Homo sapiens: one gene and its partners. The protein of the gene in region 2 purifies or fractionates together with the protein of the main gene of each other region. This does not show direct contact. Each region holds a gene or a part of one and is shown on either strand. Other genes may lie near its edges.

Region 1 (3,500 bases), about 100 Mb from region 2:
GGTTCAAGTGATTCTTCCTCAGCCTCCCGAGTAGCTGGGACTACAAGCATGCGCCACCATGTCCAGCTAATTTTTGTATATTCAGTAGAAATGGAGTTTCACCATATTGACCAGTCTGGTCCTGAACTCCTGATCTCAAGTGACCTGCCCACCTCTGCCTCCCAAAGTGTTGGGATTACAGGCGTGAGCCACCATACCCAGCCAGAGAGAAGACTTGTAGAACCACTTAATAGTTTAAATTAATTACCACAATATTAAGGATCAGTGCTGCTTTAGAAGCAGCAAGGCTGGGCCAGGTGTGGTGCTCATGCCTCTCTAATCCCAGCACTTTGGGAAGCCTAGGCAGGAGGATCACTTGAGCTCAAGAATTTGAGACCAGCCTGGGCAACATGATGAGATCCTGTCTCTATGAAAAATTATAAAAATTATCTGGGTATGGTGGTGCGTGCCCGTGATCCCAGCTACTTAGGAGGCTGAGGTGGGAGGATCACTTGAGCCCAGGAGGTTGAGGCTGCAGTGAGCCAGGATTGTGCCACTGTACTCCAGCCTGGTGACAGAACAAGACCCTGAGTCTCAAAAGAAAAGAAAAAAAAATGCTGGAGTGTTTGATTTTGAGTTGTTATATTCTGGTATCTAACCCCAAAAGAGATGGGAGACATTGTGACTTCCTTGGTAATTAAAATTTAACTGGCCCAAAAAATATAACTGTTAAGGTAAAGGATTTTTGTTTGGGGGAAAGGCTATAATTTAATTATTCAACTTAGCTTTCAAGAACAGAAAAGTATTTATATAACTAAATATAGAATAATAATGGCTGTCAACATCTAATCCAACTGAAATAAACTTTAGTTTTCTTATGCCTCCAAAGTACCATAGAAAAAGAGAAAAGACAGAAATTAGAATCTAATAATAAGCCATTGGCATGTGCCTAACATGGTGCCTGAACAACTGTCTTATCCTAATAGACTATAAAGATGTTTAAATATATGATTTGCACATGAAAAATGATTAAGATAATATTACACTTAATATTTTTATTAAGGTGATATAATTGATGTAGGTACCTGGAAACTGGGACAGGATAATGTTGATAACTAACATTTATATAGTCGTTAAAATTTACAAAGTATTTTCATGTATCTTCATATTCTTCCCATCTAACTGAAATGTTGTGTCCTTTAACCAACATCTCCTCAGTCTCCTACCTCCCTTCAGTGGCTTCTTTCATGTTGATGTATAAAATCAAACAGTTCCTGGTTGCTGCTTCAAGATCTTTAAATATTGTTAGGTAGAGTTGTGAACATTTTTCTTTCACAGTGCCCCAGAGCCAACGGTCACATGTGAATTCTGAGTTTTATGGAGGCCTGCTATATCAGATCCATCAGATCCACGTCCAACCCATCAACCACTGAACTTTCTTTTTTCTTTTTTTAGACAGGGTCTCGCACTGTCGCTGAGGCTGGAGTGCAATGGCACGATCTCAGCTCACTGCAATCTCCACCTCCCGGGTTCAAGCGATTCTTGTGTCTCAGCCTGCCGAGTGGCTGGGACTACAAGCGCACACCACCACACCCAGCTTATTTTTGTATTTTTAGTAGAGATGGGGTTTCACCATGTTGGCCAGGTTGGTCTCGAACTCCTGACCTCAAGTGATTCGCCTGCCTTAGCCTCCCAAAGTGCTGGGATTACAGGTGTGAGCCACTGCGCCTGGCCTGAACTTGTCTTAAAGCTACTCTCATACTGGAAAAGCTTAAGGTACTGGGGCACCTCCTTGCAGGATAGTTGTTCCCCTGAGGCAACCGTCCAGTAGAACACATCTGAAACATGTGTGAGTAAGCAACTATCGTGACAATCACTTTTAGAACATTTTCATCAGCCCAGAAAGAAAATCTATACTCTTAGTAATTGCTCCCCATTTTCTCCCAAGCAGCAGCAGCTGCACCACCCCTACCCCCATCTCACCCTCCAGCCCTAGATAGCCAATATGTAGTCTCTTGTGACTGGCCTCTTTGACTAAGCATATTTTCAAGGTTCATCATGTTATAGCATGTATCACTTTATCACTTTTTTTTTTTTTTTTTTTTTTGAGATGGAGTCTTGCTCTATCGCCCAGGCTAGAGTGCAGTGGTGCGATCTCGGCTCACTGCAAACCTCTGCCTCTCGGGTTCAAGCGATTCTCCTACCTCGGCCTCCCTAGTAGCTGGGACTACAGGCATGCACCACCACACCCAGCTAATTTTTGTATTTTTAGTAGAGATGGGGTTTCACCATGTTGGCCAGACTGGTCTGGAACGCCTGACCTCAGGTGATCCACCTTCCTCAGCCTCCCAAAGTGCTGGGATTACAGGCTTGAGCCACCACGCCCAGCCAGGATAGCATGTATCACTTTTGATAAACTCTTGAAGGTGCTCTTTATTCAGCATCTTTTAAAAACACCTTTCCAGTATCGGGTACTTCTGTGGAGTTCTTGCTTTATAATCTAGTCAGTTGTCCTGCCAGTGATATCAGCACTTCAGTTTCTAACTTTTGGATACAGGGATTTGTTGCCGTATGAGTAGATTAACAACAGAATCTATACCATTTTTTTTTTTTTTTTTTTTTGTGAGACAGAGTCTCACTCTGTCCCCCAGGCTGGAGGGCAGTGTCGCGATCTCACCCCACTGCAATCTCTGCCTCCCGGGCTCAAGTGATTCTTGTGCCTCAACCTCCTGAGTAGCTGGAATTACAGGCATGTACCACCATGCCTGGCTAATTTTTTGTATTTTTAGTGGAGACCGGGTTTCACCATGTTAGCCAGGCTGGTCTCGAGCTCCTGACCTGAAGTGATCCGCCCGCCTCAGCCTCCCAAAATGCTGGGATTACAGGCATGAGCCACCGCACCCAGCCTATGCCGTTTCTTAGTGGAGACTTTTCACTTTGCTTTTCTGCCTTTAAGAGATACATACGGACAGGCCTAGTGGCTCACACATGTATCCCAACACTTTGGGAGGCCAAGGTAGGAGGATCACTTGAGGCCAGGAGTCTGAGACCAGCCTAGGCAACATAGCAAGACCCCATCATTTAAAAAAAAAAAAGAAAGAAAAAAAAAAGAAAGAAAGAAAAAAGAAAAATTAGCTGGGCATGGTGGTGCATGCCTATAGTCCTAGCTACTCAGGAGGCTGAGGCAGGAGAATCACTTGAGCCCAGGAGTTCAAGGCCTAGTAGTGAGCTATGATCACACCACTGCACTCCAGCCTGGGTAACAGAACAAGACCCCGTCTCTTTAAAAAAAAAAAAAAAAGAGACAGAGACATTCATACATATATCTAAGTCTACCTACTCTCAAAAGATGCTAGATATTACTATTATTCTCCAATGAGTTTTATGACATTTGCAGTGATTCTGTTTTATGCTTTCATTCTTTTAGTGTCTTCTTGTATATGGTATTAACAATTAAGGAACTTTATATATTTATGAAGACCCTTCTATCAGTGTGAGAGCATTTCATGCATATTCTTTGT
Region 2 (3,733 bases):
GCTAAAATAAAATACAAAAATTAGCCAGGTGTGGTGACACACACCTGTAATCCCAGCTACTCAGGAGGCTGAGGCAGGAGAATCACTTGAAGCCGGGAGGTGGAGGTTATAGTGAGCTGAGATCGTGCCACTGCACTCCAGCCTGGGCAAAAGACCGAGACCCCATCTCAAAAAAAAAAAAAAGAAAAAAAAAAGAGAAAGAGAAATAGATTTTTTTTTTGTTTCCCTTACCCTAGTCTTATCTTTTCCCACAAAAATTGGACCCTCAAGTTTCTTCGCTCCCTCAAGTTCATTGAGGCTAAATTGGGTTTAGGCTTTAAAGGTCCAGATTAGGCCTATAGTTTTTTCCACTTTACTTTTTAGGGGACCACTTGGAAGGGAGGGAGAACTAAGGAAATAAATGTAGCCTGGGCAACATGGCAAAACCCCATCTCTACACAAAAAAATTACAAAAATTAGCAGGGCATGGTGGCACATGCCTGTAGTCCCAGCTATTTGGGAGGCCAAGGTAAGAGGATCACTTGAGCCCAGGAGGTGGAGGTTGCAGTGAGTTAAAATCGTGCCACTGCACTCCAGCCTGGGCAACAGAGCGAGGAAAAAAAAGAAAAGGAAATAGACATAATTCCAGCATTTCCCCGATTCTTTCTGGAATATTCTTTTTTTTTTTTTTTGAGACAGAGTTTTGCTCTTGTTGCCCAGGCTAAAGTACAATGGCACGATCACGGCTCACCGCAACCTCCGCCTCCAGAGTTCAAGCAATTCTCCTGCCTCAGCCTCCCGAGTAGCTGGGATTACAGGCATGCGCCACCATGTCCGGCTAATTTTTGTATTTTTAGTAGAGACAGGGTTTCTCCACGTTGGTCAGGCTGGTCTCGAACTCCTAACCGCAAGTGATCCAATTGCCTCGGCCTCCCAAAGTGCTGGGATTACAGGCATGAGCCACCGCGCCCGGCCTAAAGCATTCTTGTATCAGGCATCTGTGCAGCTCACTGCTTCACTTATCGTGAGCCCCGAACCTCACTGGATGAGGGAAATATTTCCTGTCTGCCCCAAGTAAGATAATGTCCCCATCACCCTTCCTTAATTTTCTTCATGGAGCTTATTATCCTGACATATATTTATTATCTTTCTTTGATCACTAGACAAGCTTAATAAAACAGCAACTTTGTCTGTTTTGTTCACTGCTATAGTTCCACGTCCTAGAACTATGCGGCATGTAGTAAGCGTTCAGTGAACAAAAGAGTCAGTGAATTCAAAACAGCCTCCACAGATTAGAAAGAGAGGATTGAGGCCTGGTGCGGTGGCTCATGCCTGTAATCCCAGCACTTTGGGAGGCTGAGGTAGGCAGATCACCTGAGGTCAGGAGTTCGAGACCAGCCTGGCCAACATGGTGAAACCCTGTCTCTACTAAAAATTCAAAACTTAGCCTGGCATGGTGGCAGGTGCCTGTAATCCCAGCTACCTGGGAGGCTGAGGCAGGAGAATAGCTTGAACCTCGGAGGCGGAGGCTGCAGTGAGCTGAGATTGTGCTACTGCACTCCATTCTGGGTGACAGAGTGAGACTCCATCTCAAAAAAAAAAAAAAAAAAAAGGATTGAGTCAAGATGATTACATATATCAGGGATAAATGTAAATTTCTATTTGGACTCAAAAACCTATTTATAGTCAATAACCTCACTTGATGAGTCAAAAATGACTTAGGAATTTAGGCAACCACAATCTTGGACTATAATTAGTATAATGCCTACTGTTTTCCCTTCTATTAGAGGTATCCTCTCCTATCCTCTCCAACCAATCCATGGCTTTTTCTTCCCTCCAAACCTAGATGAAGGGTTTATCTTCTCTAGAAAGCCTATGAGCATCATGAGCACAATACTATGAGCATAATGTCCAGATTACATGAGAGGCAGGTATAATTTCATCTGCACTGGTCATAATATACATGTAATATTGTGTATAGCAGTGACAATAATAAAATTGCTATTTTTTGTGTAAATTTATATGTCCCTGCCAGGCATTGTGGTAGAGCTTACTTTTTTTATTTCTTTTGAGACAGCGTCTCATTTTATTGCCTAGGCTGGAGTGCAGTGGCACAAGCTTGGCCCACTGCAACCTCCACCACCTGGGCTCAAGTGATCCTCCTGCCTCAGCCTCCTGAGTAGCTGGGACTACAGGCACATGCCATCACACCTGGCTAATTTTCGTATTTTTTGCAGAGATGGAATTTCACCATGTCACTCAGGCTGGAGTGCAGTGGCATGCATGATCGCAGCTTACTGAAGCTTTGACCTCCCCAGTTCAAATGATCTTCTTGCCTCAGCCTCCTGAGGAACTAGGACTACAGGCATGTGCCATCATGCCTGGTTAATTTTTTTTTTTTTTGAGATGGAGTCTTGCTTTGCCCAGACTTGAGTGCAATGGCGCGATCTCGGCTCACTGCAACCTCTGCCTCCCTGGTTCAAGTGATTCTCCTGCCTCAGCTTCCTGAGTAGCTGGGATTACCAGCACATGCCACTACACCTGGCCAGTTTTTGTATTTTTAGTAGAGACGGGGTTTCACCATATTGGCCACGCTGGTCTCGAACTCCTGACCTCAAGTGATCTGCCAGCCTTGGCCCCCCAAAGTGCTAGGATTACAGGCATGAGCCACCATGCCCAGCTAATTTTTAAATTTTTTTTAGAGATGAGTCTTCACTATATTGCCCAGGTGGTCTTGAACTCCTGGGCTCAAGCAATTCTGCTTTAGTCTCCACCAAATTGCTGGGATTACAGGTGCAAGCCACCATGCCTAACCAAGGAAGAGTTACATTTTATTTAAAATATATATTTATTGTTATTATTTTTTTAGAGACGTGGTCTCACTCTGTGGCCCAGGCTGGAGTGCAGTGGTGCAATCACAGCTCACTGCAGCCTTGAACTCCTGGGCTCAAGCAATCTTACTACCCTAGACTCCTGAATAGCTGGGACTACAGGACCATGCCACTATGCCTGGCTAATTAAAAAAAATTTTTTTTAGAGACAAGGTGCTATGTTGCCCAGTCTGGTTTTGAATTCCTGGCCTCAAGATCCTCTTGCCTCAGTCTCTTGAGTCGCTGGAATTATAAGCACGACCCACTGTACCCGGGTACATTTTAAAATAATATAGATAAGGAGCAAAACATTATTAACAAAATAAATCAAGGTGACCATGTCTATATCCATACCGAATAATAATAGTGTTTAGTCTCAAAGTATTAAATGAAATAGCTTTTAGGGAAAGTTTTCACAAAATGGAGACAGCCTTGGTAGTAAGCTACTTGAAGGCAGGCAGGAACAATATCCTATGGATCTTTGAATCCCTCAAGAGTCTCTTGCTTCTAATAGGAGTTCAGTAAATATTTGGTTGAACAACTAATTGGATTCAGTTGCCATTAAGAATGGGCACAGCCTAAGGAAGTGGCTCTCCATTCATCAATCAGGTGCTTTCCTGCAAATTGTTTGCTACTCATTAGTGAAACTGAACACTGTCTCTATGAGAAGAGGAACACAGCAAACTACCAAGACAGGCATATTTTTTGGAATGATCATAAAGAGAGATCTGAAGGCTTAGATTAGGAGACACCTGGGCAATTCTTTTGGCTCTATCATAGATTTATTCCCTGCAGCAGTGCGGTGGAGGAGCGGGGGGCAACCCACTGCTGCTTACATATTTACAATGCATCAACTTTTATTGTTAGAAAATGGAGATAGGGTA
Region 3 (3,733 bases), on a different chromosome or scaffold from region 2:
TTTGTGTAGAACTGAAAGTTTGTGAAACTTGTTTTGGATGATTATATGAAGCCATACAACATAATGTAGGAGATGATGGTTAATAAACTGATTCTGTTGTCAATCATCAAAGATACAAGTGAACTGCAGTGAAAGCTCTAGGATTTTTGTTTTTCTTTTTCTGCCCAGAGCTGGATCCTTTGTTTCACATCCTATACAAATTTAGAGTATTTCTAGTATTAGAGACAGCAGCTGCCTTGTTAGCCTCTCCTATGCCATGGATTAATAAAGTTCTTTTGACTGTTTTTGAACCTAAACACAACACAGCTGGTTTCTATTCAGCATGTGAGTGGGAAGAAGTGGAGTCGAATGAATGGGCTTGATTCCTAGGTTGTCTGTTTCCTGTTTAGGAACCTTGGGTAACATATTTCACCCTTAGCTTCAATTTTCTAATCTGTAAAGTATAGATAATGATACCTCCCACACAGGGCAGTTATAAGGATTCAAGGTGAAACCATGTTTGAAAGCAGCTATACATTCAATAATAGAAATTCAATACATGGAACGATGATTTTTTTTAAATATTATTTTGAGACTTTAAAATAAGCTGTTACTCTTCCTCTTTACATTTCAGGAGCAACTGTTAAAGCTACTTGTAGACCTTTACTGAAAAAGAGGTAAATACCTGGTAGAATACATTTCCCAGAGCAGTCAATTATTTCTTCAAAAGTTTCTCCAGAAAACTGTCTTTGAATAACATCAGCAGGACCAATAGCTTTTATAAATCCATCTCTGAAGAAAAATCAAGAAATAGTTATTAAATTTGGGGAAATCTTGTGAGAAATCTGATGAGTGACTTAAAATATGTTTTCAGATTCTTTGGTGTTAATTAGTCAACATTTACTGTGCTTCTATCTTGAACCTGAGTCTGGAAAAGCGTCTCTAGCCACATTCGAGGCAACCATAAAAGACCCAGATTAGCCAAAGCCTCCTCAGCAAAATGAACAAAACTGGAGGAATCACATTACCTGACTTCAAATTATACTACAGAACTATAGTAACCAAAAGAGCATGGTACTGGCATAAAAAACAGACACATAGACCAGTGGAACAGAATAGTGAACCCAGAAATAAGTCCATACATCTACAGTGAACTCATTTTCAGCAAAGATGCCAAGAACGTACATTGGGGAAAAGACAGTCTCTTCAATAAATGGTGCTAGGGAAACTGGCTATCCATATGCAAAAGAATGAAATCAAATCTAAATGGGTTAAAGACTGAAATCTAAGAACTTAAACTATGAAACTACTCAAAGAAGACCTTGGGAAAACTCTCTAGGACATTGGTTCAGGCAACAATTTCTTGAGGGATACCCCACAAGAACAGGCAACCAAGCCAAAAATGGACAAATGGGATCACTTCAAGGTAAAAGCCTTCTGTACAGCAAAGAAAATAATCAACAATGTGAAGAAACAACCCACAGAATGGGAGAAAATAATTTGCACACTATCTAATTGACAAGGGATTAAAAACCAGAATATATAAGGAGCTCAAACAGCTCAATAGGAAAAAACCTAATAATCTGATTAAGAAATGGACAAAAGATCTGAATAGACATTTTTCAAAAGAAGAGATACAAATGGCAAACAGGTATATGAAAAGGTGCTCAACATCAATGATCTTCAGAGAAATGCAAACAAAACCACAATGAGAGATCATCTTACCCCAGTTAAAATGGCTTTTATCCAAAAGACAGGCAATAAAAAATGCTGGCAAGAATGTGGAGAAAGAGGAACCCTTGTACACTGTTAGAAATGTAAATCAGTACAGCCACTATGGAGAGTATGAAAGTTCCTCAAAAACTAAAAATAGAGCTACCATATGATCCAGCAATCCCACTGGTAGATCTATATGCAAAAGAAAGGAAGTCAGTATATTAAAGAGATGTCTGCATCCCATGTTAATTGCAGCACTATTCACAATAGCCAAGATTTGGAAGTACACTAAGTGCCCACCCACAAATGAATGGATAAAGAAAATGTAATACATACACACAATGGAGTACTATTCAGCCATAAAAAAGAGTGAGATTCTGTCAATTGCAACAACATGGATAGAACTGGAGGACATTATGTTAAGTGAAATAAGCCAGGCACAGAAAGACAAACTTGGCATATTCTCATTCATTTGTGGGAGCTAAAAATGAAAACAATTGAGCTCATGGAGATAGAGAGTAAAATGATGGTTACCAGAGGCTGGGAAGAATAGAAGGGGAGAGGAGAAAAATGGGGATTGTTAATGGCTAGAAAAATATGGTTAGATACAGTGAATAAGACCCAGTATTTGATATCACAACAGGGTGACTACAATCAGCAATAATATGTTGCACATTTTAGAATAACTGAGGGAGTACGATTGGAATGTTTGTAACACCAGGAAATGATGAATGCTTGAGATGATGGAAACCCCATTTACCCTGATATAATTATTACACATTGTACGACTGTTTAAAATAACTCATGTACCCCATATATATGTACCCATGAAAATTTACAATTAAAAAAACTTTAAACGTCAAATATATGTAGCAGACAATTGCCATTTGTTCCCCAAGATCAATGTTCCCTTTTTTACACTAGTAGAGCCCTAAATTTTAGCTGGACACATGATGACCCAAAATACAGACTACATTTCCCCACCTCCCACTAGCCAGGTGTGGCTATGAGACTAAGGTCTAGCCGGTAAGATTGTCTTCTCTTCCTATTCTTACTGGCTGGAATGCAGACACCACAACTAGAGATGGGGTGGCCATCTTGGGTCATGGAGTGAGTGTAAGAAAGTGGGCCATGCATGGGAGAGCAAGGCAGCAGGGGCCTGGCTCCTAAGGACCCCATGGAGTATTGCAATCAACTAGCCCTGCATTCGTATGTCTGGATTTTCACATAGGAGAGAAATATACTTCCATCTTGTTTCAGCCACTATTAATTTAGGTCTTGGTCACTTACAACAAATTCGTATTTCCAACATGGAGATTGAGGGCTATAAACCTGAGAGCTGGAATGTGTTGTGAAAAGCAATTAGGATAAGGGATTCCGAACTGGGACAGAAGTGGTTGGGGTAACCTAACAAAATGTAAGAGTGGAAGAGCAGAAGAAACTGGATGGAAAGAGAAGATGTTATGATAGGAAAAGAAATAATGATTGTGGGAGATTTGGGGAGGATAAACTTAGGGTGGAATAAGAAATTAAGTCTTGAAATAGAATTTAGTATCCTGATTAAGACAATTCTTCATCACTAACAGCTTTTATCTGGCCCAGTTAGATAATCTACCCAGTGTGCAGTGAATCTGGTGGTGGAAAGGACCGGCAGGATTAGAAATTGACCCTTGAATGGGAAAGAACAAAGAGAATGCTCTTATGCAAAGAGTTAATGACTGACACTGCTTTAAGAGAGGTTGTTTTAACAAAGTCAAACCTAAGAAATAAATCTCTAACATTCTCCGTCTGTGCAGGAGGTGAATTTTGAGGGCACTGGGTCCTCTTCCTGACCCCACTAATCCCATGCTTATCTACCTTTCAACAGTGTGGTTCTCTCATTCATCTGTGGATGTACCTATGTTTGAACAAAGGCTTATGTTCCTTTGTTGAGGACATAATGAGGGCAGTTATTGAAGGAAACCAACAAAAAGCATTCCCCCAAAAGTGTTTTTTTAAGGTAGTCATTAAAATTACAAAGATACATATTACTGCTATG

What was found.
Region 1: the proteins of SYT11 (region 2) and TMEM59 purify together in Homo sapiens (co-immunoprecipitation; one large-scale study listed by IntAct). This does not show direct contact.
Region 3: the proteins of SYT11 (region 2) and AMDHD1 purify together in Homo sapiens (affinity purification with mass spectrometry; one large-scale study listed by BioGRID and IntAct). This does not show direct contact.

What each region holds. Positions count from the first base shown.
Region 1 is NC_000001.11:54,032,705-54,036,204, reverse strand, and holds part of TMEM59 (transmembrane protein 59 isoform 2 precursor), read left to right. Parts: intron 1-3,500.
Region 2 is NC_000001.11:155,862,567-155,866,299, reverse strand, and holds part of SYT11 (synaptotagmin-11), read right to left. Parts: intron 1-3,733. UniProt on the Homo sapiens protein: Synaptotagmin family member involved in vesicular and membrane trafficking which does not bind Ca(2+). Inhibits clathrin-mediated and bulk endocytosis, functions to ensure precision in vesicle retrieval.
Region 3 is NC_000012.12:95,949,755-95,953,487, reverse strand, and holds part of AMDHD1 (probable imidazolonepropionase), read right to left. Parts: intron 772-3,733; coding exon 665-771; intron 1-664.